Linked DNA regions of Homo sapiens: regions 1 and 3 are each linked to region 2. The links come from fine-mapping of genetic effects on gene expression. A gene starts in region 2. Each other region holds a variant in brackets. All regions are shown on one strand. Distances are from middle to middle.

Region 1 (10,486 bases), 46 kb after region 2:
GAACTCAATATCTTTGTAGAAATTATTAAAAGCAATATCACCTTTAGCCTTGTCAAGAACCTCTAACAAGACCTTTTCAGACCAAAGTGCCCTCAATATCAGAGCATGTAGTCACCCACCCCAGGTTGACCCCGGAAGTATGAGAGAGCTAAGGTGGGAGCCAGAGGCTGAGAGAAGAAAGGGGGTGACCTAGTTCATGCCAAATGAATCTCACAAGCAAGACTAGATTGTAAAATCAGCAAAGTCGCTCACAGCTGCATTATGTCCTCCCTGAGCTCTGGGCACTTTTGCCTTTGTGACCTCCTTCCTCCAACAATTAACATTAAAAATTGTATTTTATTATAAAGACAAACATAATCATGACTGAATTTATTATTACAGATATGTTATGATTAGAGTAATTTTTATTCTAACTTTAAAAGAAATGAAAATTAAACATTTTTGTGGACCCCAGGCACTGTACCTTCTGTGGCTTATGGAAAAGTGTGCCTTAAAGTTGGTGCCTTAGCATCTTTGCCTCCTCTTATTTTTCCTGTGTGTGTCAACTGTCACTTTGCCCTTCTTTGGGACACCACTTTTTACAAACGAATGTCTCAGGTATCTAATACATTTGTGTTTCCACTGCCTCTCCTGCCCGCTGACCTGACTGAAATATTTTGGCCAGCAACAGAGTTAGGAGGGGTGTGATTCCCAATGCACTTCCCATTTCTACTTCCTCATTGCCCACTTGGCGCTAGCTTTTGCTGCCACTTCTCCACTGAAACTGCCCCTGTAAGGTCATCAGAGTCCACTAGATTGCCAAACTCATGGATGATGGGCAATCTCTAACTTTAGACCTTCCTGTTGCATTTGACACTATTCTTCATTTAACTACTTTTTGCTGAGTACCCACAATGCTTCAGCCTGTGTGCCAATTTGGGAGGCATAATTATCAAGTAATCAGACAAGATTCTGGCCCTCATAAGGCTTTTTGGCTAGTAGGAGATACAGATAAATAAACAGCAAGTACAATACATTTGGGGATACTATAGAATCACCTAATTGGAACTTGAGAAATCAAGAAATGCCTCCTGGAGATTACACTTAACCTAAGACCTGAAATATGAATAGAAGCTAGCCTGGTAAGGGGAGGAAGAGTGTCCTAGGTGGAAAAAGCAACATACACAGAGCCCTAGTGATAAAAGGAATAGCTGCACACTCTGGTAATAGAAAGTAATTCCACATGGCTAAGGCCTAGATATATATGCATGAGAGGGGAGTTTGTGCTGGGTAGTGTCATGAGCATATTGACACTATATGAAGATGGCTCTAGTGTCAGTGTAGAGAATGAATTGGGTTGGAGGTGACACTGGGGTCAGTGAGAGCCACCAGAGAGCTGCCGAAGGGATGTGGTGGCTGGAATGTGGACAGGACATGGTAGGGTTCTGAACCAGGGAAGCAGCAGAGGAGAAGGAGAGAAGTGAACAGATTGAAAAGATCTGTCTTAGTAATAAATTGGATTTGGGGGTGCAGGGGAAATAGGAATCAAGGACAGCATCTGTATCTGGGCTGTTAGTGGCAAAAAAAAAAAAAAAAAGAATCCCTTTGCTGATTAGTCAGAAAGGAGTTTGAGGATATTAAGAGGCAACTCAATCTTTGGGAAGGGCAGAAAAAAACAACACCCAGTTAGGAAAGCTCACATCCAGGACCACCGTAGCCAAGAGCAATCCGGCTGAACACCACGCCACTGAGCAGAATTATTCTTCTTGTTCTTTGGCTCCCATAATACTAGGAACTGGACACCAAGAGCTTTCCCGCAGCTATCCCAGAAGAGCCTAATTCCTCCACATTTGCCATTGTCACAAGAGGCTACTTCCCCTCACCCAACAGCAGGTCCTGTTGCTCACTTCTGCCTCCTATATTTGTGCAGGTGGAAGTGCTTGACCAAACCTGGGTCCCATGTTGAACCAAGTGGTAAAGAAGCTTGGAAAACATGGTTCCTAGCTTTCCAGGGAGGCAACTACAGAGGAGTTGAGATGGATGCTGAATTCTTTATTGTATCAGCCATGATTGGTGGCTCTAGGGCCAGGCACATATTTTCTGGGGTTCTTCCCTGAGTCACTTCAATCATATACCATCTGGGCCATCTAAACTTGAAGCTCCCTCTGCTTCTGGCCCTATGTTAATTTTTGAATTGTCACCAAGTAGTGTTTTTGAACAGAAGTTCAACATATTCAGACTCACTGAGTAATCCATGTTCACAAGGCTCTCAACCTCACCAGCATATGAAACTTCCACAGTTAACCTGCCCTGCATACTTTTCTATTTATTATTAAAAGTTGCACACATGCACAAAGCAGAGAGAATGGTGTGATGAGCCCCTGTGCACAGCAACCAGCTTTGACAATGATTTGCATTTTGCCATGCTTGGTGTCCAGCATTCTTTCTTCTGCCTAGATCCAGACTCCTTCCATGCTGGGCTTTGTTCAATCCCAGTTCTCTGTTCTGTCAACTTCATCCTCCAACTCAGAAATCCTCTCAAGCTGATGATACCACGTGTACACAAAGTCCTCCTACCCCAGCTTTTTCCCAAGCAGCTGAAATACATTCTACTTTGACTGTGGCTCCCATCCTACCAAACTCATCTTTCTCATTTATTAAGTAAAGTGGTATTGTTGGACCAGATGATCCTTTTCCACAACAAAATTCTAGGATGGAGTGTGAATTTTCACTTTTTGGCTTTAGACTCAATAACAATCTTGAATGATTTTAATTGGATTCTTGAGAGCCAGGACTCATTCTTTTACAATTAATACTCCTCCCCATCCCCGTCTTCTGGGAGCCTCTACCAACCGCATCAAGCAGCTTCCCCCAGCTTGGCCAGGCACCCTCTGTCCACCTCTTCCACAATATTTAGTACTCTCATTTGCATTCATATTTGTTTCCCAACAAAGGCACCTGTGCAATTGTTTCCTACTACCCTGCGTGCTGCTTAAGTCTGATGAAGACATTCTTCTTTGGAGTCTGACATTAGGTAATAAGGACACATAAGGTGATTTGAGTCCCTAACTGGACTCAAAAATGAGATGGCTTTTGTTTGGGAAATGCTTTCACTTCACACCAACCAACCTACTTACAACAAATGATATATAGCAGTAAGCACGTGAGCCAGAATCCACTAATCCTATCATACACCACACCACTTAGAGCAATGGGACAGCTCTTTAAATGTACAGCTGAAGCACTGGATTGGAGATAATACCCTGCCAAGTGGGTGCCATCCTCCAAGATGTGGTATTCTCCCTAAATCAGTGACCATTAAATGGCACCATGTCCTCAGTAGCTAGAACACACAGGTTTGCATACCAACAAAGAGAAGCAGGAATGCCCTTGCCTTACCATAACATCTGGGGAAATTTGTGCTCTTGGCCTTGGTTGCCCAGGGCAGTACTTAGTCATTATCTTATTCCTTCTTGGCTTCCTCCCTCCTCTGTGTCACTTCCTAGTACCTCGCTGTACTCTCCTGACATTCCCTCCAAAATAAGCTACTTGCACCTGAATGTATGTCTCAGAATGTGTTTTGGGGAGATCCATGCTGAGGTGTGGGGTTAATGCTAATATTCATCTCACAGATTTGTTAGGAGGAACAAATGGAGAATGTACCAAGCACCACGTCTGGCTTTGAGTAAGTGCTTGGTAAATGACAGTTATCATTGTTGGTGACATCATTATCATTATCCTCTCGCAAAGAGAGCTGAGGCTGGGCTTATTCAAAGTTCTAAGAGAGGCAACATTAACACACCGGCTTACTCTTTCCACATCTTCCCTCCAATAAGTAAATTATTGATTATATTAGTAGCTGTCTTTTGTCTACTCTGCTAGGTACTGGGCTAATTGCTTTGTATGAATTATTGCAGTACAATGTTGTCTCAATGGCCTTACCAGATTACAATAATCAGGAGTATAATTGTAATCCTCATAATAATAGACAACATGTGTTGAGATTTTTCTATAAACTGGAAGAATCTTCTGAGTGTTTCACGTGTGTGTAGTACTGTAGTATCTCTCTATTTTACATGTGTAGGAATAGGCTCAGAGAGGAGAAATGGTTTGCCCTTGGCCACACAACCTGGACAAGGAGGAATCTGGATCGGAACCCAGACCTAACTGATTCCAGAGAGCTTGCTCTTTTTAGAAGACCACAGTCTTATAATCACTTCTTGTATTTCTCTAGATGTGACTGTATATTTGTGTGATTTAAACTTTTCAGGGTAATGAAACATTGTCCTTCACAGGAGCTAAAAAGAAAACTACAACTCAACATAGACAAGCAAAGTTCACAGGAAATCTGACCCTGTGACAATAATTTTAAGGAACAAGAAGGCATGAGTCACAATCCAAAATAGCAAGAATAAAGCATAGGATTCTGCTTATGCCAAAATATTCCTCTGTGATTTAAACAGAGGCAGGGACTTTGTTTCAACCATAGTGGATATGGGAGGGAGAACGTCTACTGTAAGTTGGGATGTCTACAGAAGAAATGGATATCCAAGACACAAATAACTATTTTTAAACAAGTACATAAAAGACAGGGATGTGTCTATTAAATAAATTCTTATCATTTTCTACCCTTAGAAAAGTTTTACTTAATCAATAATTTATGCTAATGTGGAATTATTCTTAGAAAATTAAAATTCAACCTTATGAAATAATCCACTGAAATCTTCCAAGTTAAGATTACACGTAATACAAAAACATTCTTACTAACTACAATTACAGAAGGAAAATGGAGTCATTTTACCAGCTCTTC[G/A]AGCTATAAAAAGTACATTTGATAGATTCTCCCTGCCCTGTATTATTTTCAATCATCACAATGGCTACTATTTTTCAGAGGCTTGTCATTTGCTGAGAACTGAGTTAAGACCTTTACATTATTTCATTTAATTCCTATAATAACCCTAAGAGGAATATACTATCATTATTTTCATTTTACACAAAAGGGAACTACGGATTAGAGAGGTTAAAATCTTGCACAACATCACTCAACTAGTATGTGGAGGAATCAAGACTCAAAATATGATTAACCAATGTTATTGACTGAAAGGATTATTCCCTCATTGTTCTTTCTACGTAGACCCAAACATCTAAGTTCCACAATGGCTGGAATCAGGGTAGACAAAAGTACAATGACAAAAGACACTGTATTACTGAGTTCTGAAAATAAAGATTCAAGGCCCTTCTAAAAGTGACATCTTAATAAACTGCTCCAAGAATTGGCTTTTCTTGGGGACATGCAAAGAGCTCACTTTTTGGCACTGTGATTTACAGATAAGTAGCCTCATTGTCAGGCTGTGGCAGCCATCACAATGAGTCAAAAACACAGGCTCAAAAATGTATACTTCTCCAAAAACAGAGTCAGAATTCACACTCACGGTAAAAAATTATAAACATCCTGCACCACCCAGTGACCCTGAGCCAACTTGGTGATCAAAGGTGATTCTGAATTTAGTAGGAACCAAGAAGTAAACTCTATTAAATACTATAATTTCCTTAGTCCATCTGTTACATGCAAATACTAATAGTTTCCAGGTTGATTGTTGAAAACCAAAATGAAAATTTGAAGAAGTAGAGGCAAGGGACATATAATGAATGTGTCTTCATCATAAAGATCTTCAATTCAGCCTGATCTATGACAATGATCATAGATCATTATATTGAGATATAATTCACATACCATAAATTCACCCATTTAAAGAGTACAATTCAATGGTTGTTAGCATATTCTCAGAGCTGCACATCCATTACCACAATCAATTGTTGAAATTTTCACCACTCCAAAAAGAAACCCCATACCCTTTAGCAGTCACCTCCCATTCTCCACATGCCTTCAGCCCTAGGCAAGCCCTAGGCAGTCTGCATTCCATCTATATAGATTTGCCTATTCTGGATATTTTATATAAATGGAATCATATATGTAGTATTTTGTGGCAGGCTTCTTTTACTTAGCACAGTGTTTTCAAAGTTCACCTATGTGTTGCAGCAGGTATCACTATTTCATTTATTTTTATAGCTGAATAACATTCTATTGTATGGATATGCCAGATTTTGTTTGTCCACTCATAGGTGATGAACATTTCAGTTGTTTCCACCTTTTGGCTATTAGGAATAATGCTGTAATAAACTTTTTGTGTACAAGGTTTTGTGTAATATGTGTTTTCAATTCTCATCAGTATATACCTAGGAGCGGAATTACTGGGTCATAAGGTAATTCTATCTTTACCTGTTTGAGGAGCCACCAAATTGTTTCACATTTCTGCCAGCAACATATTAAGGGTTCTTATTTTCACATCCTCATCAACATTTGTTATTATCTATCTTTTTAAATTTTATTTTTTATTCAATAGTTTTTTAAGGAGCAGGTGGTGCCTGATTACATAAATACGTTCTTTAGCAGTGATTTCTGAGATTTTGGTGCACCCATCACTCAAGCAGTGTACACTGTACCCAAAGTGTAGTCTTTTGTCCCTCATAGTTTAGCTCCCACTTATGAGTGAGAACATACAATGTTTGGTTTTCCATTCCTGAGTTACTTCACCTAAAATAATAGTCTGCAATTCCATCCAGGTTGCTGCAAATGCCATTATTTAATTGCTTTTTATGGCTGAGAAGTATTCCATGGTATGTGTGTATATATACACACACATACATATATATATGTGTGTGTGTATATATATCACATTTTCTGTATCTGCTCATTGATTGATGGACATTTGGGCTGGTTTCATATTTTTGCAATTGCCAATTCTGTTGCTAGAAACATGCGTGAAACATGCATGTGTGAGTATCTTTTTCATATAATGACTTCTTTTCCTCTGGGTAGATACCTAGTAGTGGAATTGCTGGATCAAATGGTAGATCTACTTTTAGATCTTTAAGGAATCTCCACACTGTTTTCCATAGTGGTTGTGTCAGTTTACATTCCCACCAACAGTGTAGAAGTGTTCCCTTTTTACCATATTCACGCCACCATCTATTATTTTTTAATTTTTTGATTATGGCCATTCTTTCAGGGGTAAGGTGGTATCACATTGTGAGTTTAATTTGCATTTCCCTGATAATTAGTGATGTTGAGCATTTTTCCATATGCTTGTTGCCCATTTATATATCTTATTTTGAGAACTGTCTATTCATGTCCTTAGCCCACTTTTTGATGGGATTGTTTGTTTTTTTCTTGCTGATTTGTTTGAATTCTTTGTAGATTCTGCATATTAGTCCTTTGTTGGATGTATAGATTGTCAAGATTTTCTCCCTCTGTGGGTTTTCTGTTAAGTCTGCTGATTATTTATATTGCTGTGCAGAAGCTTTTTAGTTTAATTAAGTCCCATTTATTTTTGTTTTTGTTGCATTTGCTTTTGAGTTCTTGGTTATGAAGTCTCTGCCTAAGCCAATGTCTAAAAGGATTTTTCCAATGTTATCTTCTAGCGTTTTTACGGTTTCAGGTCTTAGATTTAAGTCTTTGATCCATCTTGAGTTGATTTTTGGATTTTTGAATAAGGTGAGAGACAAGGATACAGTTTCATTCTTCTACATGTTGCTTGCCAGTCATCCCAGCACCATTTGTTGAATAGGGTGTCCTTTTCCCATTTTATGTTTTTGTTTCCTTTATCAAACATCAGTCAGCTGTAAGTATTTGACTTTATTTCTCAGTTCTTATTCTGTTCCATTGGTCTATGTGACTATTTTTATGCCAGTACCATACTGTTTTGGTGACTATGGCCTTGTAGTATAGTTTGAAGTTGGGTAATGTAATGCCTCCAGATTTGTTCTTTTTGCTTAGTCTTGCTTGGCTATGAGGGCTGTCTTTTGGTTCCATATGAATTTTAGGATTGTTTTTTCTAGTTCTGTGAAGAATGATGGTGGGTTTTTTTTTTTTTTTTTTTTTTTTTTTTTTTTTGAGACTTAGTCTTGCTCTGTTGCCAGACTGGAGTGCAGTGGCGCGATCTCGGCTCACTGCAAGCTCTGCCTCCCAGGCTCATGCCATTCTCCTGCCTCAGCCTCCTGAGTAGCTGGGACTACAGGTGCCTGCCACCACACCTGGCTAATTTTTTTGTATTTTTAGTGGAAACGGGGTTTCACCGTGTTAGCCAGGATGATCTTGATCCGCCTGCCTCAGCCTCCCAAAGTGCGATGGTGATATTTTGATGGGCATTGAATTGAATTTGTAGATTGCTTTTGGCAGTGTGGTCATTTTCACAATATTGATTCTACCCATTCATGGTCATGGGATGTGTTTCCTTTTGTTTGTGTTGTCTACGATTTCTTTCAGCAGTGTTTTGTAGTTTTCCTTGTAGAGGTCTTTCACTTCCTTGGTTAGGTATATTCCTAAGATTTTACACTTTTTGCAGCTATTGTAAAAGGGGTTGAGCTCTTGATTTGATTCTCAGCTTGGTCGCATTGGTGTATAGCAGAGCTACTGATTTGTGTGCATTAATTTTGTATCCTGAAACTTTGTTGAATTCCTTTACCAGTTCTAGGAGCTTCTTGGATGAGTCGTTAGGGTTTTCTTGACATGCAATTATATAATCAGCAAACCGTGACAGTTTGAATTCCTCTTTACCAGTATGGATGTCCTTTCTTTCTTTCTCTTGTCTGATTGCTCCGGCTAGGATTTCAAGTACCATGTTTAATAGAAGTGGTGTAAGTGGGCATCCTTGTCATGTTCCAGTTCTCAGGGGGAATGTTTTCAACTTTTCTCCATGCAGTATGATGTTGGCTGTGGGTTTGTCATAGATGGATTTTATTACCTCAAAGTATTTCCCTTCTATGCCAATTTCACTGAGGGTTTTAATCATAAAGGGATGCTGCACTTTGTTAAATGTTTTTCTGCATCCATTGAGATGATCATGGGATTTTTGTTTTTAATTATGTTTATGTAGTGTACCACATTTATTGGCTTGCATATGTTAAGCCATCCTTGCATCCCTGGTGTGAAACACACTTCATCATGGTGGATTATCTTTTTGATATGCTGTTGGATTCAGTCAGCTAGTAATTTATTGAAGATTTTTGCATCTGTGTTCATCAGGGATAGTGGATTGTAGTTTTCTTCTTTCGTTATGTTCTTCCCTGGTTTTGGTATTAGGGTGATGCTGACTTCGTAAAATGATTTAGGGAGGATTCCCTCTTTCTATATCCTGTGGAATAGTGTCTATAGGATTGATAGCAATTCTTCTTTGAATGACTGATAGAATTCAGCAGTGATTTTTGTCTGGTCCTGAACTTTTTTTTGGTTGGCAAATTTTTTAATTACCATCTCAACCTTGCTGCTCCTTATTTGTCTGTTCAGAGTTTCTGTATCTTCTTGTTTCAATCTAGGAGGGTTGTATATTTCCAGTAATTTATCTATTTCCTCTAAGTTTTCTAGTTTATGTGTGTAAAGGTGTTCATAGTAGCCTTCAATAATCTTTTGTATTGCTCTGGTATCAGTAGTAATATCTCCCTTTTCATTTCTAATTTATTTAACTCCTCTGTTCTTTTTTTGGTTAATCTTGTTAATGGTCTACCAATTTTATTTATCTTTTCAAACAACCAGCTTTTTGTTTCATTTATCTTTTGTGTTTTGTTTGTTTGTTTGTTTCAATTTCATTTAGTTCTCCTCTGATCTTTGTTATTTCTTTTCTTCTGCTGGGTTTGGATTTGGATTGTTCTTACTTCTCCACTTCCATGAGGTGTGACCATAGATTGTCTGTTTGTGATCTTTCAGACTTTTTGATGTAGGCATTTAATGCTGTGAACTTTCCTCTTGGCACTGCTTTTTCTGTATCCCCGAGGTTTGATAGGTTGTATAACTATTCTTGTTCAGTTCAAATAATCTTTAATTTCCATCTTAATCTTATTGTTTACCCAATGATCATTCAGGAGCAGGTTATTTAATTTCCATGTATTTGCATGGTTTTGAGGGTACCTTTTAAAGTTGATTTCCAATATTATTTCACTGTGATCAGAGAGAGCACTTGATATAATTTTGATTTGCTTATATTTGCTGAGATATGTTTTGTGGCCTATCATATGGTCTATCTTGGAGAATGTTCCATGTGCTGATGAATAGAATGTATATTCTGCAGTTGTTGGGTAGGATGTTATGTAATTATCTGTTAAGTACATTTGTCCTAGGGTATAGTTTAAATCAATTGTATCTTTGTTGACTTTATGTCTTGATGACCAATCTAGTGCTGTTAGTGGAGTATTGAAGTCCCCCACTATTATTGTGTTGCTGTCTGTCTCCTTTCTTAGGCCTAGTAATAATTGTTTTGGAAATTTGGGAGCTCCAGTGTTAGGCGCATATATATTTAGGATTGTAATATTTTCCTGTTAGACTAGACCTTTTATCATTATATAATGTTCCCCTTTGTCTTTGTTAACTGCTGTTGCTTTAAAGTTTGTTTTGTCTGATACAAGAATAGCTACTCCTGCTTGCTTTTGGTGTCCATTTGCATGGAATATCTTTTTT
Region 2 (10,486 bases):
CCCTTATGATTAGTGATTTTGAGCATTTTTTAATATACCTGTTGGGCTTTTGTATGTATTCTTCTGAGAAATGTCTATTCAGCTCCTTTGCCCATTTTTAATCAGGTTACTTATTTTCTTGCTATTGAGCTGAGTTCCTTATTTATTTTAGATATTAACCCCTGAGATGTGTGGCTTGCAAATATTTTCTCTCATTGTGTAGGTTTTCTCTTCACTCCATTGACTGTTTCTTTGGATATGCAGAAGCTTTTTAGTTTAATGTAATTCCATTTGTCTGTTTTCACTTTTGTTGCCTGTGCTTTGGGGGCCATATCCAAAACGTCATTGCCCAGACCAATGTCATGGAGTTTTCTTCTGTGATTTCTTCTACCAGTTTTACAGTTTCAGGTCTTACATTTAAGTCTTAACCCATTTTGAGTAAATTTTTGCATATGGTGTGAGATAAAGGTCTTATTTCATTCCCCTGGATGTGAATATCCAGTTGTCCCAACAGCATTTATGGAAGAGACTGCCTTTCCCCATGTGTTCTTGGCACCTTTATCAAAAATAATCAATTAACTGTAAATGTGTATATTTATTTCTGAACTTTTTATTCTGCTCCATTGATCTATGTTTCTGTTTTAATGCCAGTACTCTTTTGATTACTGTAACTTTGTAGTAGATTTTGGAGTCAAGTAGTGTGATGCCTCCAGCTTTGTTCTTTTTGCCCAAGATTGCTTTGGCAATTCAGAGTTATTTTTTATTCCATATGAATTTTATGGTTGCATTATCTGTTTCTGTGAAAAATAGCATTGGAATTTTGATAGGAATTGCATTGCATCTGTAGGACATTTTGACAATATGGACATTGTCATTTTAGACATTTTGACAATAGTAATTCTTCTAATCCATGAGCATGGGACATATTTCCATTTATTTGTGCCTTCTTCAATTTCTTTCATCAGTGTTTTATAGTTTTCAGCATACAGGTCCTTCATCTCCTTGGTTAAATTTATTTCTACATATTTTTGTAGCTCTTATAAATGGCATTGTTTCCTTGATTTACTTTTAGGATAGTTCATTGTTAGTGTATAGAAATGCTGTTCATATGTGTGTTGATTTTGTATCCTGTGACTTTACTGAATTTGTTTATTAGTTCTAATGATTTTTTGGTAGAGCCTTTATGATTTCTTATATATAAAATTATGTCATTTGCAAACAATTTAACTTCTTTTTTAATTTGGATATCTTTTATTTCTTTCTCTTGCCTAATTGCTCTGGCTAGGACTTCCAGTACTATGTTAAATAGAAGTGGCAAGAGTGGACATTCTGTCTTGTTCTGATCTTAGAGGGAAAGCTTTCAATTTTTCACCATTTAATATGATGTGAGCTGTGGGTTTGTCGTGTATGGCCTTTATTATGTTGAGGTACATTCCTTCTACACCTAATTTGTTGAGAGTTCTTGTGAAAGGATGTTAAATTTTGTCAAATGCTTTTTATGCATGTATTGAGATGATCAAATGGTTTCTGTCCTTCATTCTGTTAAAGTGATGTATGGTGAAAGATCCTGTTAATGTGCTATTGTATTCAGTTTGCTAGTATTTTGTTGAGGATTTCTGTATCTTATGTTCATCAGGACATTCGCGTGTAACTTTTTATCTTGTAGTGTTCTTGTCTGGCTTTGCTATCTAGGTAATGCTGGCCTCATAAAATAAATTGAGAAGTATTCCCACTTCTCCAAATATTTTGGAAGAGTTTGAGAAGGATTGGTATGGCTTCTTTAAATGTTTGGTAGAATTCAGCAGTGACGACTTCCTGGGCTTTTCTTCGGTGGTAGAATTTTTATTACTAATCAGATTTCCTTACTTTTTATTACTCTGTTTAGACTTTCTGTTTTTTTTTTCATGTTTCAGTCTTGGTAAGTTGTATGTGCCTAGGAACTTCTCCGTTTCTTCTAGGCTATCAAATTTCCTCTTCCTATAAGGACAGCAGTCAGATTGGATTAGGGCCTATCCTTGGGGCTTTATTTTAATTTAATCACCTCTTTAAAGGCTCTATATCCAAATGCAGCCACATTCTGAAGTATTGAGGATTAGGGCTTCAGCATATGAATTTTGGGAAAGGACACAGTTCAGTTCATAACACCAGCTAAGATTTAGGGACTTTTCATGTTGCCAGGACTGGAAGGTGGCTTGACCCTTGGTTCTCAGAACTGCCCTCTATCAATGCTGGCATCCCCTGAGACACCCCCTTTCCCTTCTGGTCTTTGGTAGTTAGCCCAGGTAGTATTAACCTGAGTTGTCCCTCATCCGTGACACAAAGTGCCACACTGGGCCACTGAAAGTGCTGTGAGATGGGCTGAGGCTTCCCATCACTTCTTTGTGCCCCTCATTCTACTCCACCTGTGCTATACGGGCACAGAGGGACTTGATGAGTGTCTTAGTTTGTTTTGTGTTGCTATAAAATAATACGTGAGACTGGATAATTTATAAAGAAAAGAGGTTTATTTAGCTCATGATTCTGTAGGCCAAGAAATTCAAGGATGTGGTCCCAGCTTCTGGCAAGGGATTTCATGCTGCATCACAGCATGGCAAAGAAAGTCCAAAGGAAAGTGGACACATGCAAAGAGGGCCGGAGAGGTATCCAGGCTCTTATAATAGCCCACTCTCTCGAGAACTAATCCATTCCTGGGAGAACTAATCCAGAAAGAGAACTCGCTTACTACCTCAGAACAGCACCAAGCCATTAAGGAGGGATCTACCCCCATTGCCCAAACGTCTCCCACTGGGCCCCACTTCCCACTACTGCCACACTGGGAATCAAATCAACACCAGCTTTATAAAGACAAACAAACCATACCCAACTATGACAGTGAGGTCTCTCAGGTACATACTCCTGAGTCTCTCCTTGGAAATGAGGCACAGGTTCACTCTCCTCCCCAGATCACACAACTCATCTAGGGTGTTTGTCACCCACCCCTACCTCAGGGCTTGCTTGGAAGTGAGTACAGCAATCAGGATGCAGGGCCCCTTTCTCAAGCACTGACCACATCTAACTCTTGAACATACTTCCTCTCTCACAACGTTAAACCCAACCCCCGCCAAGCAGGACAATCTTTTTCAGTTTTGGGGGCTGGGAAGCTTTACTTTATTTCAGCACATATTCTCCCAAGCATAGTGTCTGTGCCTCAGTCTTTTCCAAGGCCTTGAATTTTTGAAAGTCAAAACTCACATTGTCTTCTTTTTTTCCCCCCCGCTTGTGCCAGAAATTTCCTTGAGGCAATAAATGCAAAATGGCTCACTGATTGTGTAAGGGTAGGGCTAGAGTGAAAAGAAATGTGGCTGGGAAAATATAGCATTATTTCAAAATCTTACCCTGCCATATTTAGTTGCCGCTTTAGCTAGTGAAATTACACCTAGCAGATAGTGTGGCCTCACAAAGGACCCCTTCATCAGTAGAACACACTCTTGCACTGTCTGCCCAATGGAGAAGTTGGAACCAGGTAGATCCACAATCTCCTCCCCATTACCCCATGAGTAGCCCAACTGGCCAGTGTTGGGTCCCCAGATTGTGACCACAGAAAACCAAATAATTGACTGGTCAGAAATGCCAACCCCGTTAAGGCAGTGTTCTGAATAACTACTAATTGTCTTTATCTCATTGTTATGTTGTTAAAATGTCACAGTGACTCAATGATTTAAAATTTCTAACCGTTCATTATAAAAGATAGCCCTATAGTTGAAAATACAGTATTGCCATATTTTCCATATTAAGAAGCAAATTTCTTAAAAGCTGGTAAATTTCTTATTGTGTAGAGTTGGCAAGGTTTTAGCATAGGTCAGCTCCAGCTTTTTCTCCTCTTTAATCAGAAGTGAAAGTTTGTGTTTCTTATGTTTCTTAATGATAATCTTTTTCTTTTGAAAAGCAAAATACATGAATATTAGATATGGACATGAAAATACCCTTTCCCTAAAAGCAGAAGTATAGTCTATTCAGATAAAGTAAGAGATCATCAGAGTAATGAAATACCTACGTAACAATGCACTTGTACCCCGAACTTAAAAAAAGATATATCATGTATAGAAACCACAGATAAGCAGATGTACGAAACCAAGCAAAAATGAGAACTTTGAATTACAGTCACAAGTAAACTGAAATCGTTACTTTTCATTTTTGTAAAACTTCAAGACATTTATTGTTAATTTTTTACTTTATACTTAATTTTTATTATTTCAGTAACAATATATTGATTTATAATTTACTATATGCTAAATTACTTTATAAACTATCCTGTGCTTTATAAATGTAAGGTATTAGTTTTATTATTCTCAAAGAAAGACCTACAACGGAAGTATTGAAAATCTTTACATTCCTGATATACCCTGATCAACTTCAATATGGAAAGCCTTGCTTATATACAGGCTAATCTTTTCTATCTCTGGGTAGGGAGAAAAAAACAACAAAAAAAAAACACCAGCAACAACCCTTAATGTCCTTTAACAAACACAGATTCAAAATGTCCTGATTACATCTTTAAAATTAAGTCAAATGTTTTCATCCCAAATAAATTCTGTTCTTTCAAATAATATTTTCCCTTCATTTCTAATAAAAGTTTATGAGGGCAAGATTCAAAAGTGATATTTCTGACTTTTTTATATATCAATAGTAAGAAAGTTATAGGAGCTAATTTCACTTCATATTAAACCACTTATAGATTTGGCATTAACTTTAACTTGCTAAAGTACAAGAGTTTTTATAATAACAATGTAAGTCTTAAATAAAATTTTCAAGTTTCATAAAATTATTTGTCTCAGCTAGTTAATTCAACTGGTTTTTAGCCATCTCTGTTTCCAAGAGGAGAGAATCAAAGGAGAAAATAGTTCTACAATCAAATACTATATATCTAATCCCATTAGTCTCTCAAAAAAAAAAAGAAAAGAAAGACGGTATGAGGTTGGCTACCTTAACCCCTGCCTTAAGCAGCACAATATCCATCATTAAACCCCTCAGCCTCAATTCTCCCTTTTCTGTTTTTGTCCCAGGAACTTTATCACCCTGAATCTACCTACAATATCCTCCCCTATCTCACACATCCAAATGGTTCATTCTATTTTATCTGTACCCCTCTTGAAGTACTTCTTCATTTTGCCATTGCATTACAATCATTATTAAACATGTCTTTCTCCTTTACTAGGTAAAAAAAGCTGCTTTTGGTTGATAGCCAGTTCGTATACATCTCCCCGCACACTGCTGGCATGATGAGTGAATGAATGAATGAATGAATGAATGAACAAAGAAATAAATAAAATATTTAACATATATTCCATTAAGTAAAGGGCATATAATATAATATCAGTACATACTTGTAATTAAGATGCAATGAGACAAGTGAGTTATAAAAATTACAGTACAGTAAACAATAAATAAAAACATCTTTAAAAGTATTTAAGAGACTTTTTTTGTTCAAACTTGGATAACGCACACCCTTCTCATTGAGATGCTGCTTCCTCATTGGTTTGTGCTGAAATATGAGTGCAATTTCCTGTCCCCTCAGCAGTGTTGGTTTCTCTTCTTGACTTGATGCAGGCACAGATTTATCAAGCTCCTCAGTCAACAAACACATCACCGGAAGAAATATGGGTAAGTATAAGATTAAAAAATAAAATAATATTTTAAAGTAGATAACATGCTTTGGCATAATTGTCAGTGATGTTCGCAACATTCTTCCTGGTTTAGGCTGTATAAATGTGGTAATGCAAAGCATGATAAGAGAGAAAGAAATGAGGAAGACACATGGTTTCCTCTACTTTGAGCAGTGGTAAAGGGCCAAACTTTAAATTTAGAACTAATTAGGCAAAACCATAGATATAGAAAAAGGGGGTTGTTCATACTTTATTTTCTTTTCAGGAAACAGTGCTTTGGCAAACTTCATTCAGTATTAGGAAGAAGCCTACCAGCCCCTGGCTTTAGAGCTATCTGGCACCAATCCCTCATCTGTACAATGGTCCAGTAAATACTTTTTATATCCATCAGAAAAAAATGTGATATTAGGAAAGAATATTTCCAGTATTAATAAATGTCAAGTAATAATTATTAGTTAATAAGTGACTACCACAGTGCCTGAAATATATAGTAGAGTCTTAATAAGTAACTATTAAACTGATAGATGAAAGCAAGCATTTTCTATAACACTGTAGGAAAATATTGTACTTTTGGTCATCGTCATCAATGATTTGTACTATTTTTAGATCTGTTCAAGAATAGATATACTTTAATATACTGTAGATTGTCTTTTTTGACATCTGGTAAAAATTAAAAAATTAAAAACTCACCAAAATTTCTCAGTGCTTGTTCTAAAAACAATTTTCTCAAAATTTGATTAAAGGAGGCAAAATAATATCTGAAAAGATATGTGAATACTGTAATAGGAATTATATACAGTATTCCACTAAAATCTCAGATCCACCCAAATTAAATGAACAACTATTATCTGCAGAGCCTAGTATTATACGTGAAGTGTTACCATATAAATTACACTCTGAGCACCTCCAGCTTTTCTGCTATGCTGTGGCTAGATGACTAAAGATGATTTCTTTTCAGAAAATGTAGGGGACAGCACAAAGATTGGTGCAGACTACCAATGTCATTAAAACAATATTACCAGCTAACGTACAGTGAATGCCTCCCATGTGCTAGGAACTTTGCTTCATATGTCGTTTCATTTAACCCTCACAACAATCTTAGAAACTGGGTACTAACTTACACATGTGAAAACTGGAACTTAGAGAGGTGAAGAAACACCAATGGGCCCAGAGTGCTGTTGAGAGGCATTCGAATTGTCTCCAGAGCCCACGCTCTTAACCACAAGCCTGTACTGCCTCTGCGTCACTACAAAGAAGAGGGCCTCTGCTTCATCAACCCATCCTGTCTTGTGGTTAAGTCAAGGCAGGAAATGCTTTTACAGCTAGAGAAATGTATTCCATTGAAAACTTTATAAACCTTTCTAAAAATCATTTTTTCATTTAATCTGTCATACCATTTTTAAAGAAAATGATGACTATCTATTGAGTAACACGGACAAAGGAGGAAGAGGCACATGCTGCCCATTACCCGACTTTCTCGGTCCTGGTCTTAAGGGGAGGATGTTTTCATGGTTCAGGTGTTCTTCCCAAGACACATGAGCCTGGTGTTGGACGTGTTGTGTGTGCATCAGAGTCCCATCCGCGGGGGCTGATTCAATCTTCCTGCATCGCAGACATTACCCTAGTGTCCTTTTCCTACTTCAGTTATATCCTTTAGAAGTTTCTTTAGTGGGGATTTTGGATGTAAATGTTCTGAGTGGTAGTTTACCTGAAAATGTCCTAATTCTTGCTCTGGTCCTTGAAATTTAGTTCTGTTGAGTATATAATTATAGGATGACATATATTTTCTTAGCAATTTGGAACTTTTAATCTTCTGCTGTCTGTTATCGCTGTTGAGAAGTCTTTTGTCCGTCTAAATTCCATCCTTCATAGGTAGTCCATCTTTCCTCTCTGGCTCTTTTTTCCTTAGTCTTTGGTGAACTGCAATTTTATTGCAATGTGTCTAAGTATAGGTTTCCATTTTTGTGTTTTTAATCCTATTTGGGATTTTCTAAGCTTCATAAATCTGCAGATTTCATGAGGATTGAAGATGCATGAGGATTCTTCATCCATCCTCAAGATTCCTTCATCAGTTCTAGAAAGCTCATCATCTTTGTGAATATTGCCTTTTCAACATTCTCTCTTTTCGATCTTTATGGAATTCCAATTATGTATATGCCACCCTTTTCACCTTTTCTCCATATCTCTTATATTTTCCCATGTCCTTAACATGCTGATAATTTTGTGTTATTTCTTTATCTCTATCTTGCAATATACAAATTTTCTCTTCAGCTGGATCTAATCAGTTGGTTACTCCCTGTGTTTATTTTTAAATTTAAATTATTATTATTTTTATTTTTAGAAAGTCTTTTTCAATCTTTCTAAAAATATGGCTTGTCATTTTTTAATCTCTTCCTCCTTACTCATGTGTTTAAATCCCTTCTTTTGTTTCTTTAAACATATTAAACATATTTTGTGTTTTTTATATATATATATATAAATTTTATCTCTAAAGTTTTGTGGATCTGGTTTACTTTGTTGTTTCTGCTCAATCTGACACGTAGTTGCTTATTATTCTCTCTGTGTGTATGTGTGTGTGTGTGTGTGTGTGTGTGTGTGAATAAGGTCATATTTGTTAGAACTCTATCTGTAGGATTCTTTGAGGCCTGAGTTAAAGAGGACTTGTTCAAGGGGGGATCTGTGTCAACTTCTTCCAGGAGCCTAGAATTTATTTTTTCATATATAGTTAACCTTTATTTTTGGTGAAGTTATTTTCATAATTAGGTAAATTATTTATTTATTGTTTTCTCTCAATTACATTTTATGTATGAGGATAGAAATAAGATCAGATTTCTTAAAAAGGCATATATGTTCCATCTGTGGGTAAAACAGATGTTTGTTTGTCAAGATGCTCTACATGCCATCTCACACAGCCTTTTGATTCCACTTTTTAATGTTTCCATTGCAATACAATACACATGCAGCAAAATGCACATATCCTAAGTGTACAGCTTGATGCATTTCTACAAACTGAGCATGCTCATGGAACCAGCCACCCCTACCAAGAGATAGAACATTGCCAAATCTCAGAAGTCCTCCTCATGCCCTCTTCCAACAGTACTCAGCCTTTCCCCAGAGGTAGCCACTACCCAGACTCCTAACATCATAGATTAACTTTGCCTGGTTTGTATCAGATAATACATACTCTTTTGTGTCTTTTTTTTTATCACTCAGAATTACATTTGTGATCTTCAACCATGCGATTGCATGTAGCAATAATTTATTCATCTTCATTGAGGTGTAGATTTCAGTGGTGTTACTATATCCCAATTTACTCATCTATTATACTGCTAGTGGGCATTCTAGTTAAGGGATATTACAAGTAGTGTTACTGTGAATATTCTAATTCTAGTACCTGTCTTTTGGTTAACATATGTATGCGTTTATGTTGAACAAATACCTAGAGGTGGAATTGCTGGATCATATGGCATGCATAAGTGCCTAGTGTTTTTTTACTCAACAGCATATGAGTCAAGATGTTCTATTTCCTTCCTAACACTTGATATTTTGTCTTATTTTCATTTCATTTGTTGTGTTGGGTGTGTAGTGGTATATCATTTTAATTTTAGCTTGAATTCCTCTGATGACTAATGAAGTTGAGCATGTAGGTTGGCCTGAAGTTTGCAGGATCAAACTAATAATGTAGACCCAGACCTAGTTTCCAAGTGAGGACCCCACAGGCCACAACTACTTAGGGTAGAATTTTTTATTGTAACTCCTCACAGAAACCAAGCAGAGGCAGGGAAATTGCCATCTTTTCTCTACTGTCTGCAAATGTCTGTGGAATTTATTTTATTTTGTTTATTTTCTAGTTCACCCTTTCCCTGACAGCAGAGGTTCTGGATCCCATGTGTTTGGGATGGTCAAGGACCCCTTCTTACCTGCATAGGCCCAAGTTTTGTCTCTAGTTTCTCTGATCCCTAGTGAGTTCCTCCAGATCTACATATGTCTTCAGGCCATCCAGAGCTCCGGCGCTCACTCACCTCCCTGATAACAGCTCCCACCTCCTTTCTTCCATCACAAATTTTCCCCCCCTTTGGAAGCTTCCCTATTTATTTAAAAGGCTGTTTTTCACATTTTATTCCTGTTTTTTAGGTTGATAAAGCTAAAAGTTTTCAGGAGTTTTAGTTACCTGTTTAAGAGTGAAATATGATATATTTTCCCATATGATTTACTCTGCTAGTAGAATTCTTGTGACTTGTGATGGCAGGTCTTTTTGTGCTCAGGATTCATCAACAGTTGGGAGGGAGTGATTCTGGTGCCCTGAATAGTGTTTCTAGAAAGCTTTCTGTGAAGGTATTCACCATGTAAATGATCTCAGCCACCAGTAGGCCTCAGCAGCAAAGGGATATAGACAAAGTATTTCTCTACTCCAGTATGGAGAGAAGGATGGAACCTTTACTCTTATGTGAATCTATGACATCATAGCTTTAAAAAGACACTAACCTCTTAAACCATCAGATATAAAGGTGGAAATTAATGATTCCAAGATTTTACCCAGAATAAGAACATTCTGTCCTCTCATTTATAAAAGTATAAGAAAAATAAAGTGAGTTAGTCGACAAAGGAAATAAAAAGATAAACAGAAGTAGGATTGTCTAATTATATGCTAAGGCTTAACAAACTGCTACATTTTAAAATTCTAAAACTTTATTGTATTTCTATTATAGTATTTCTTTGGATAATAAGGTGATTTTTGAAAGTGCCGTACACCTAGATTGAATATGAAATTAGAAATTTGAAATCACATAACCATACAGTTGATCACACATGCAAAAGTATTTACCAATCACAGACAAATAACAGAATTTTTTATCTTTAGCTGC
Region 3 (10,486 bases), 32 kb after region 2:
GTAATTCCTTTTAGGATGCAGATTGCTTCTTATTTACCATATAGGGCATGGATGTGTACATAGGGGTGTGTGTGTGTGTGCACGCATTTGTGTATATGTAGGAGGAGAAGGAATTGCAGAAATTTCAGGGGTTTCCACAGAGCCCTTGCTACCATGATGGCCCTTAATCTACAAGTCGGAGAAACAATGGGAGGGTTCTGCCAGATGCTTAAAATAACTGTGTATTTGGAGACTAGAAAAATAACTGAGAATTTTTGTCCTTGCGATTGAACAATGAGAACACATGGGCACAGGAAGTGGAACATCACACACCGGGGACAGTTGTGGGGTGGGGGGAGGGGGGAGGGATAGCATTAGGAGATATACCTAATGATAAATGATGAGTTAATGGGTGCAGCACACCAACATGGCACATGTATACATATGTAACAAACCTGCACGTTGTGCACATGTACCCTAAAACTTAAAGTATAATAATAAAAAAAAAGAAAAATAACTGAGATAAACTTGAGCTAACATTTCATTTATCACCTAGCTTCCATATACCCACTCTAACTGGAATTCCATGATGAAGACTTGAGTCCACTAGCATCGGAAAACTCGGATCCCATATTTAACAGTGCTCAAAAACAAATATACGTACTGCCTTCCCCAGTGTACAATAGTCTATCAATGGCCACAGGTCCCTTTTGGGAAGGATTACAAGGAATATTTCATATTTATATATATTTTTTCAATAGCATTGCAATGTTATTCCTTAAGGGAACTCAGTCTCCTTTTCAATTAGTGGGTTCTAGGTCTACAAAATAACTTAAATTTTGAAACTGGAAGAAAGACTACAGATTTCATTGCGGTGACTGATGTTAACACTTCTATTCTGTAGTTCTCCATTTTTTAAAATAAAATAGTGCAAGTCAGCAATCCTTGTCAGCAGTCTAGCTATCTCACACCTAAGAACACCATGGTCTATTAGCCAACACCAAAGATCCCCATTAGGGCATTTTGATTGACAGCCTGACCTTAGTGCTCATTATAGACATTATGTCCACCATGTTTCTTATAGTTCAACTATCAGAATCCCAAGCTCTGCCACTCTGGAATCCTGTCATCCCTGCTGATAATATACAGCCCAATTTAATGGCAGCATCTCCAACCCTCAGTCCTTTTACAAAGACAATTTCCATTAAACTTCTAAACAATTGTCTGTACCCTCTGACCACCGCATTCCTTATTTCTTTGGTTAATGGAAGATATTCTGTGTTCCCTCAATGAACACAGCCGGGTGATATGTTTTTAGATGTTACATAATAAATTAATTCTTTTTTTTAATTATTATTATACTTTTAAGTTTTAGGGTACATGTGCACATTGTGCAGGTTAGTTACATATGTATAGATGTGACATGCTGGTGCGCTGCACCCACTAACTCGTCATCTAGCATTAGGTATATCTCCCAATGCTATCCCTCCCCCCTCCCCCACCCCACAACAGTCCCCAGAGTGTGATATTCCCCTTCCTGTGTCCATGTGATCTCATTGTTCAATTCCCACCTATGAGTAAGAATATGCGGTGTTTGGTTTTTTGTTCTTGCAATAGTTTACTGAGAATGATGATTTCCAATTTCATCCATGTCCCTACAAAGGACATGAACTCATCATTTTTTATGGCTGCATAGTATTCCATGGTGTATATGTGCCACATTTTCTTAATCCAGTCTATCATTGTTGGACATTTGGGTTGGTTCCAAGTCTTTGCTATCGTGAATAATGCCGCAATAAACATACGTGTGCATGTGTTACATAATAAATTAATTCTAACAGCCCCATCTTTAGGATCCTTCTGATCCTTTCTTCAATACTATACATCAAGAAAGTCCTAGCATCTCTACCTCATTTACTGAAGGCCATCATCCTGTATAAGCTTAAAGAATCCATCCAAACAGATTTTCAGAATCATCTTGAGATATTTCCAAAGCATTGAAATCCAAGTGATGAATGAGCTCTCCCTTGCTGAAAATGCTCCCTACGCAGCCTTATATCTGTCTTCCCACTCCAGGCCAATGCTCTCTAGATCTACTTCCACATGTGTTCCAGGTCCTGAAAATCCTTTTCAGTATAGACTATTCCTCCTGGGGCAGAGGTTGTACTTCCCTGATCAGACTGTGCTGAGACCTGACTCTGGTCATTGGCCTGAAACTAATGAGAATTGGATCTGGAAGAGAACTAGTGCCATATTGCAAAGCACCTGCCTTAAGTGGTGTCATTTCATTGCCTCCAGAAAAGGGGAGACTGTTCCCCTCAGGCAAGTTGGAATCAGTTGCTTCTGCCATCCTGGGGAGTTCAGGGTCATCTCGGAGTTCAGAACTCTCAGGATAATATACCCAAATATTCCTAATACAAGTTAGGGGTCCCACTCTTTTCCCATCAGGGCAATAACTTTGACAGATGAGATCTGTTGGGGCTATGCCTTGAGTCACCTGTGCAGCTCTGCTACACTGAAAACTAGATGCTGGGCCTGCTTTTCAGCAGTCTGCAGGAAATAAGAGTCTCCTTCAAAGTTGCCATAGAACACTTTGACTTTTTAAGGGTGTCTTTACTTGGCAGTTGGCTGTCATGAGCTTCTCGTTTTCTTGTGCCAAGTCTTTCATTGCAGTTAAGAAACATCCCACTCAAAATTTTGTGTAATTATCATTGCCCTCATAACATTCAATTACAACATATCCCAGTGCCACATCTTCTGCCTGCACCTCACTCCCAGTTACTCTCGGGTCAAGGGCAAAAAATTACATGGAGGTATGGGGTAGGAATGCAGGAAAGGAAAATGGCCATATGCAAATTGAAAACTTAGGCCTTCTGAATAAATTGGCCTAGAGATGTATTTTGTTTGGCAGGCTCAACTTCCAGAAAAACTTCTGAACTTAAATATCTTTAGGCAGAGCATGCGTTTTTCCTATTTGCCACAGTTCCTACCAATCACGACGATGTTACTCCACATATTCTCCTTCCCTGCCTGACTTCTGAGGGCATTTGGGCTTAGCATCTCTGGGTGTCAGGATCACATCTGGTAAGAAAGCATAGTGGATTTAGCTAGCTGCAAATTTTCAAGAGGAGTTACTCTCAGCAGCCTCCAGATAGGAATGCCCCATGCCTCCTGAAAACAAGTGAGCAAAGGCCCAGATTCCCTGAGCTCCTTTGAGATTTCCAGCACAGGTGAGCAGGGAAGCAACAGGGTTAGTTGATTCCCAGAACCCTGGGCACATGTTAGAAACCGCAGCAATCTCTTTTTAAGAAAATGCTTAACATTTTCAGGGGATGAGAAGGCACTGAAGTATCTTTATGCAGATGAGGTTTCATCTTGGTTCTGATTAAACAAAACGATGTTGTACCTTGTTCTCTTCCCTACCATTTTTTAGTGGCCTTCAATTTAGTCATCATTTTCCCCCATTCTCAAGTGAGATAAGAGTTAGAGTTGTTATATATCCCCGAAGCAGAGCTTGAGGTTGATTGTCTGTGCATACTGATAATATGGTAATGCCATTCTGTTAAGTGAATGATCTAGATTTGTAAGAGATGTTGAATTTCTTAAATTCACTCTGAGATAGACAATAGATACCATAGACATTTTATTAGAAAATTTATATCATAGACATATTTGAGGCTTACTCTGTGCCAGGCATTGTATTGGGCTCTGTTGATGCAAAGAGAGTTAAGATATGGGTTGCCGCTCTCGGGGAGTTCAGAATCTAGTAGGAAAACACATGATATATGTGAAGTCTAAGCAGAGTATTATGGAGACACCAAGGAGGGAGAGAAGGCTTCACTGAGGAAGTGACATTTGTCCTGAATCTTGAAGGATAACTTGCTCCTGAGGCAAAAGTGGGAAGATAGGATGGCAGTTCAGAACAGTGAGTTAGGGACAAGATGTGGGACTGCTTGCCCCTGTCTTACTGAGCTGCCTTTACCCCATCACTCCTGTTCAGCACCTCACTTTGGTACTACTGCAGCTACCTTCATGAACAATCTCTGATAGACTCTGCCTCCCCACACCTCTGAGATGAGCAAATTGTACCAACTGCATACAAGTAGCAAGCCAGTCACTAGTGCCCTCGACTGGGCACATGGAAGCTGGCTGAAAATCCATCCCCAACTGTAAATTTTAAGTGTAACATTATACCAAGGACATGTATCAGTAAAGTGCCTAGACATTCCTTATTTTCCCATTTTCACAAGCTTGGAGATCAATGGGCAGGAGCAGGAATAAATTACTATGTTATCACACTTTTCTGAGCATCTGGAAGAAAAGCTGTATCTGAAGAGCTGTGGGTGAACAGAATAGCTGAGTGGGTACTTGGGTGATCAGGTGTATTATCAGTGGAATAGTTATTTCATCTTTATGATGATTTGATAGTGAATGGCATTTTCTACTTCCAATGACTCCATGTTCTCAATCAGTTATATTGTACTCTGATATGCACACAATGGGATTGCCTTGGTGCTTAAAAAGTAGATGCATGGACTCCACCGTTTAAATCAGAATCTCGGAAATTGGGGCCCAGATATCTGTATTTTGAAGGCTGCTCAAAAGGTTGTCGTGTGCAACCAGGGTTGCTTACCACACTTCTAGACCAACAGAGAGATTAAAGATAGGGGAGCTTACACTCAAGGAGCAAGGACCCTTATTGGCATCTTCCCACT[T/G]TATATAGATACAGCTTCCATAACAACGACATGGAAAAATGTAATCAGAATTCTTCTTGGAGCAGCATTCCACTAGTTTGACAGAAATACAAAAATACTTTGATAAGCTGCTGGGGGTAAGGGGTGAGTCCTCTCAGGGGCATGCTTAGGAAACAAAGTAGTTCCCAAAATCTATGCATATGACAGAGAAGAATTAGATGGCCTTTGAGAGACCCAGAAGAAAATGCAAAAAGGAATAGGGAAAAAAAGGGCAAAGCAACCTGCTGTGAGCCTCCTAATCTTCCATGGCCTGAATTCCCAGCGCTTGAGGTAAGGATTTCAGTGCTGAGGGTGAATGGGCAATGTGAAGCAGGAGCCAGAGGATCAAGATTGTCTCTGCAGAGGTCTGGGTCTCAACCATGGTGATGGCTAATATGCATTGAGAGTTCTTTAGACATTCAGGAGTAGGGGGAAAGTGGAAAGATACTGTCACATTGTGACAAAAGAGAATTTGGTGATGTCGGTGGTCACCTTGGTGACAGGCTCACAGCTAGAACTGCATTTATGAGGTTCTACAGAGAGTCATTGTGACCAAAAGTCCCCCTCCAGGGTGTTAAACTCCTGGAGGATACTCATAAGCCAGGACTTCCCAAGAGTGTCCCATGGAACCTGAGTTCTAAGGACGGTACATGAAAAAAATCAACATGGGTTCCATGATCAAAGAAGTTTGGGAAATGGGCTAAATGAAAGGACTTCCAAGGCCTTTTATCTGCTAATGAGAAAGGTGATGTTTCTAGAGGCAAGAGACAGACTGCAGCTCTCTCTGCATGCTCTCATGAAATATCTCAAAGAAACAGAATTCCTTAAGGGTCCCTTTGGGAAACACTACTGCCGGTCTATGTGTGAATGACTGGAGCCACATAGAATGTTTTGCAAGAAATAACCAGGACACACAAATGTATAAGAATACATACCGATGCATTTTAAATTTGCCCACTTTTTCGATCAAAAACAAACAAGCGTAAGTTGTTTTCCCTTTCCATGTCCATTTCTAGAACAAGCCCTGTGAAAAACAAGCTGCTGTCCCTGCTAGAGGCATCCTGCAATCCATGGATGTTTATCACCAAGCCATTGTTAACATGAGGTAATGGCTATGCAGAATTTGTTTCACTCACCCCTTGGAACTCAGATTCCCTGTGGAGAGTTGGAGTAATATATATGAGGACAATAGGGAGCCTGAAAGTTAAGAATTCATCCTGTTGTATTTCTCCAATGGCACATTCACGATGTGGCTCCATGGTTTAATGCAGACTGAAAAGCAGTTGGCATTTCACAGCAGGAGGTTAGACATGGAGTGTGCTACTGGGTCAGGGTAGCTTGACTGGATATAAGTGTGTGTGATGGATGCTGTAATGAGGTGGGAGGCAGGTGACCTGAATTTTAGTCCCAAAGATACCACACTAAACTCTTGCTATGTGACCTTAGCCAAATTCTTAGTTTTCTTATCTGTAAAATGAGGTTTAGATGGTCCTGAAACCACCCACTCATGCTCCTCCTCCTCCTCATCTTTCCTGGCTGACTGGGATGATGACCATGAGGCAATGTTGGCAGCCAGGAGTAGAAAATGGCAGACTCACTAGAACATCTGAATCCCTGAAAAACAGTATCGCTGTTGCTGCTGATTAAACCTCCCCCTTGAGAAAGGAAAACATTTTTTGTAAGCTACTGGATGTTTTGGGTCCCTGTGTTTGCCATCTTCCTTATTTCATATGAGAACTAGTACCGAAAAGTAAGCACTATAACAAACATCTAAAATGGAAGGTATTAGCTTAGCATTCAGACTGAAGGCAGGAATAAAATGGTTATGAGTGGCTAGAAAGTGAAAGCCTCATGTTATCCATGGATAACTTTAAAAATTATCATCTGTGATTATTTGGAAGGTAGACCAAGAACGTATTGAGTCTGTGGCTTTAGGGAAAGCAGGTGAAAAGAGTAGGAATATTAGTGTATGTCAACTGCTATTTGTTGTTTTTAATCAAGTGCTACAAGAAACAGATAAACTCAAGCAAGAATTGGTTAGTTTGCCAGCCAAAGTGGAACTGGAAAAAAAAATACAAAGCTTCTTGGGGCTGAAAAAACTCTTGGGTTCTATACCTCAAATACGAAAAGATAAGATTTGCAGATCAAAAAAAAAGAGAGAGAGAGAGAGAGAGAGAGATCCAGCCAAGTGGCAAAGATAATATCAATAAAGTTGCTTTGCCACCCAGGCTATTTTAGACTTCAATGTGGATTCCATGATGGCGGAATAGATGGTATGCTCCAGGAAGACAAACCTTAGATCAGGTCTAGAAAAGAATTTGGGGGTTATTTACGAGCACATGAAACTGACTGGAAACAAATAGGTCAGATACCTATCGAGTTTTTGAGAAAACCGTAATGCCCAGGAAACCACAAGCTTGAATCTGTAAAATTACCCTCATGTAACAGCAGAAAGTGGGCTCTGGGAGATGTGCAACTCCTAGTAACATACTCCTCAATATTCACCGTATAAGGGTCCATGGAGGCTAACGGACAAAAATATTCTCCAGGAGGTCAGAGCCAAGAGACAGAGGAAAATGAGGAAGAAAGTTCCTTGCAGAGGACAGACCCAGGGTCTATCAAAACATTTTCTTCTAGGGTTTGGGGATCTTTGCAATACCTACCCTACAGGATTCCATTATTGCTCTGGACCAGGGAATTCTTTAGGCATTTTTAGTGTGGTTAGCCAGTCCACTTTTGTGTATTGAATAGGCAGATGGAGCAAAGATAACTGGTCTTTTAGTTCAAAGGATGCTGAACTTCAAGGAACTGTATCTGGACTTTCAGAAGAGGCCAGAGCATCATTTGGAGATCCTCGACTTTGATATCAACAAGTAGACAATTCAATAAGTGGACAAAATTTTGGGTTTTCTCCCCAGAGTAATATGCACGTATGTTTTATGTAAAGGATGATAGCAGCAAAAGGGGCTAACTGTGATAGAGGTTGCTAGCTACCTACTAAAAATCCATTCTCCCCTTCTTACTGGCACAGAGCTAAACTGCATTACTCAGCCTCCCTCGCAGTGAAGTGGCCAAGTTTTCTTCAGTGAAACATGATTGCAGTGACACATGTCACCTCTACGTTTGGCCCATACAAACCTCACACTTATCCCAATATGTTCTTTCTTTCTACTGGTTGATTGGTGTGGCAAAGCTTTGTATAACTTCTAGATGCCACATATTGAGGATGGCAGAGCTATCCCCAAATGGCTCTATAGGGACCACTAAGTGACTGTGGAGGAGAGCTGACATCAATCCAAATCCTATTATAAAAACTTTTTGTTTTTAAGCCACTGGAATTTGGGTTTTATTTCAACTGCAGTTCAGAATACTCTAACACATCACTGTAAAAGTAACAATGTCTATTTATGCAGAATATGCCAACTTTTCCAAGGAAGTCCACAGTTGATCTATTGAATCTAAGAGCTTTACACTGTCTAATCTGATCATCACTCTTGGTCAGATTAGATTACATGGTCCCTTCTTATGACTATTTTAAATAAATACACTCAATCTCTTCTCTCCCATCCTCTCTTCTCCTATCTTTATCTCTCTTCCCCGACTCCCCTGTTGCACTCTCCTGGCAAAACCCCAGCTCTGGTTTCATCCAACTCTACCTATGCCCACACTCACAAGTTTCCTGTGGCTAGTTTCACTTTAAACTCATGACTGCTGATGCAAAATAAATCCATAGTGCTGCCCAATAATCTCACTACATTTCCATAATTCATTCATTCATTCATTTAATCTCATGCACAGCTATTTCATACTTTCTCTTCTCTCCACAACTGTCCAGTTCCTCCTCACTCCTCTTCTTTCTCAGCTGATGAGCTAGAATTCTACTTAAATAAGAAAAAAGAAGCAATCAGGGAGAAATTTCCGTTGGTTCCCAACACTTCCTCCACTGCCTACCTGCATCTGTTCCTATGTAATTTGCCATCCCTCCTGGGTGAATTGTCTGTGCTCCTTTCTAAAGCCAAAACCTCCATATGTGCACTGGGCACATTTCCTCTTATCTACTTAAGAATCCTACTCCAACAATTCTCTCCTCTCCTGCATCATCAAAATTTCCCTCTATGCTGGATCTTTCCTTAACTCACAGAACATCTTAATATATATCCCATCTTTCAAAACAACAACAAAAAACCCCCCAAAAATTGACTTTGCATTATCTTGCAACTACCGTCCTATTTTGTTGCTAGCTTTTATACATATATTCCTGAAAATAACTGCCTATATTCACTGTCTTCCTTTCTCTAATTTCTTTCTCTTTTGAGCCTACTCCAGGCAGGTTTTCATACTCACCATTTCACTGTGTTCCACCTATGACCCCAGCTACCGGGAAGGCTGAGGCAGAAGGATCGCCTAAGCCCAAGAGGTCAAAGCTTCAATGAGCTGTGTTCGTGCCACTGCACTCCAGCCTGGGCAACAGAGCGAGATTCTGTCTCAAAAAAAAATTTTTTTAAACCAACTTACATCAAGATCACCAGTGATCCTCATCTTACCAAATCCGGTGGCCAATTACTAATCTTCAGTTTAGTCATCCTGTCAGTAGTATTTGATACAGTGTATCCTTCACTTCTTGAAATACTTTTTTCTCCATGGACTATTCTTTCTTGGTTCTTTGCTTTCCTTACTGGTCTCTCCTCCTCATCTCCCCAACCCTTAAATGTTGGAGTGCCCCAAGCTCAGTTCCTTATGTTGATTCTTTCCCATCTGCACTCATTCTCCAGAAGATTTTGTCAAATTTTATAGGTTTTCATACCAAATCTATGCAGATGGATCCCAAATTTCTAGCTCTAAGCCAGACGTCTCAGTTGAACTCTGGGCTTGCATATCCAACTGCCTTCTTGACATCTCTACTTGGGTGTCTCATTAGTATCTTGAAATTAACATTCTTCAAAATCAAACTCCTGATTATCTTTACCCTCAAGGTTGCTCCATAAAAGTAGCTCCATTTCTCATTTATTTAAGCCCGAACCTTCATGATCTCTAGCTGTACTCTTTTCCTTACATCCTACAGCCAGTGCATCATCATATCCTGTTGCCTCCACCTCAAACCATATCCAGAATCTGACCATTTCTCATGACCCCCTTACCATCACCTCCCACCTAGATTACTGCAATAGTAGCCTGTGGACAAAACTACTTGTTCCCTCCCTATATCCTGTGCAAATACAATTTTCATCTGGGTACTTGGTCTTCCAGAATGTAGATTATATTTCCTAACATTTCCTGTAGCTTAGTGTGACCAAGAGGATGTAATCTGAAATATCTATAGAGCCTTTAAGAGATAGCTCCAAGGTATCCTTTCTTCCTTTTTTTAAATCTGTTCTTCCATCCTGTTTTTCAGTACAGAGATGACCACTTAGACCACAGGGATACATCCTTATGTTTATTCTTTTCCACTGTACTCATGGCAGTGAGTTGGAAGGTCTTGGGGTCCCTGAGGACTTGGTGAAACAGATCTGTCATCTACTTTTGGATTTTGATGTCTGAATCTATAAATAAGAGAGAAACTAACTTCTACCTAAAGCCACTGTCATTTGGGTTTTCCTCTCACCACTGAACTTCATCCAAATCAATACGCTTTCTAACTGGTTCTCTTCCTGCTACTTTATAAATGATTCTCCCCACAGCATTAGCAAGAGTAGACCCTTTAAGACTCAGACTGGCTCATGCTACTCTTGTCCTCAAAGCCCTCTGGTAGCTCCTCTTCTTTCTCCCATTCTGCT

The links. PIP is the estimated chance that this variant, and not a neighbour inherited with it, causes the effect.
Region 1: its variant is the best candidate, but not a certain one, in a credible set for the expression of GPR65 in whole blood (INTERVAL, PIP 0.66).
Region 3: its variant is the best candidate, but not a certain one, in a credible set for the expression of GPR65 in whole blood (TOPMed, PIP 0.75).

Annotation. Positions count from the first base shown.
Region 1 is chr14:88,045,125-88,055,610 of GRCh38, forward strand. All of the region lies in intron 2 of HISLA (HIF1A stabilizing long noncoding RNA), which reads left to right. Among named protein-coding and RNA genes, the nearest start is that of LINC01147, 24 kb to the left of the region's middle. The variant G/A (reference allele first, on the strand shown) is at 4,790.
Region 2 is chr14:87,999,604-88,010,089 of GRCh38, forward strand. GPR65 (G protein-coupled receptor 65) reads left to right here and starts at 5,532. Exons shown (of 2, transcript NM_003608.4): 1 at 5,532-5,619. RefSeq lists enhancers at 5,947-6,116, 6,917-6,976.
Region 3 is chr14:88,031,623-88,042,108 of GRCh38, forward strand. All of the region lies in intron 2 of HISLA (HIF1A stabilizing long noncoding RNA), which reads left to right. Among named protein-coding and RNA genes, the nearest start is that of LINC01147, 11 kb to the left of the region's middle. RefSeq lists an enhancer at 5,646-6,147. The variant T/G (reference allele first, on the strand shown) is at 4,695.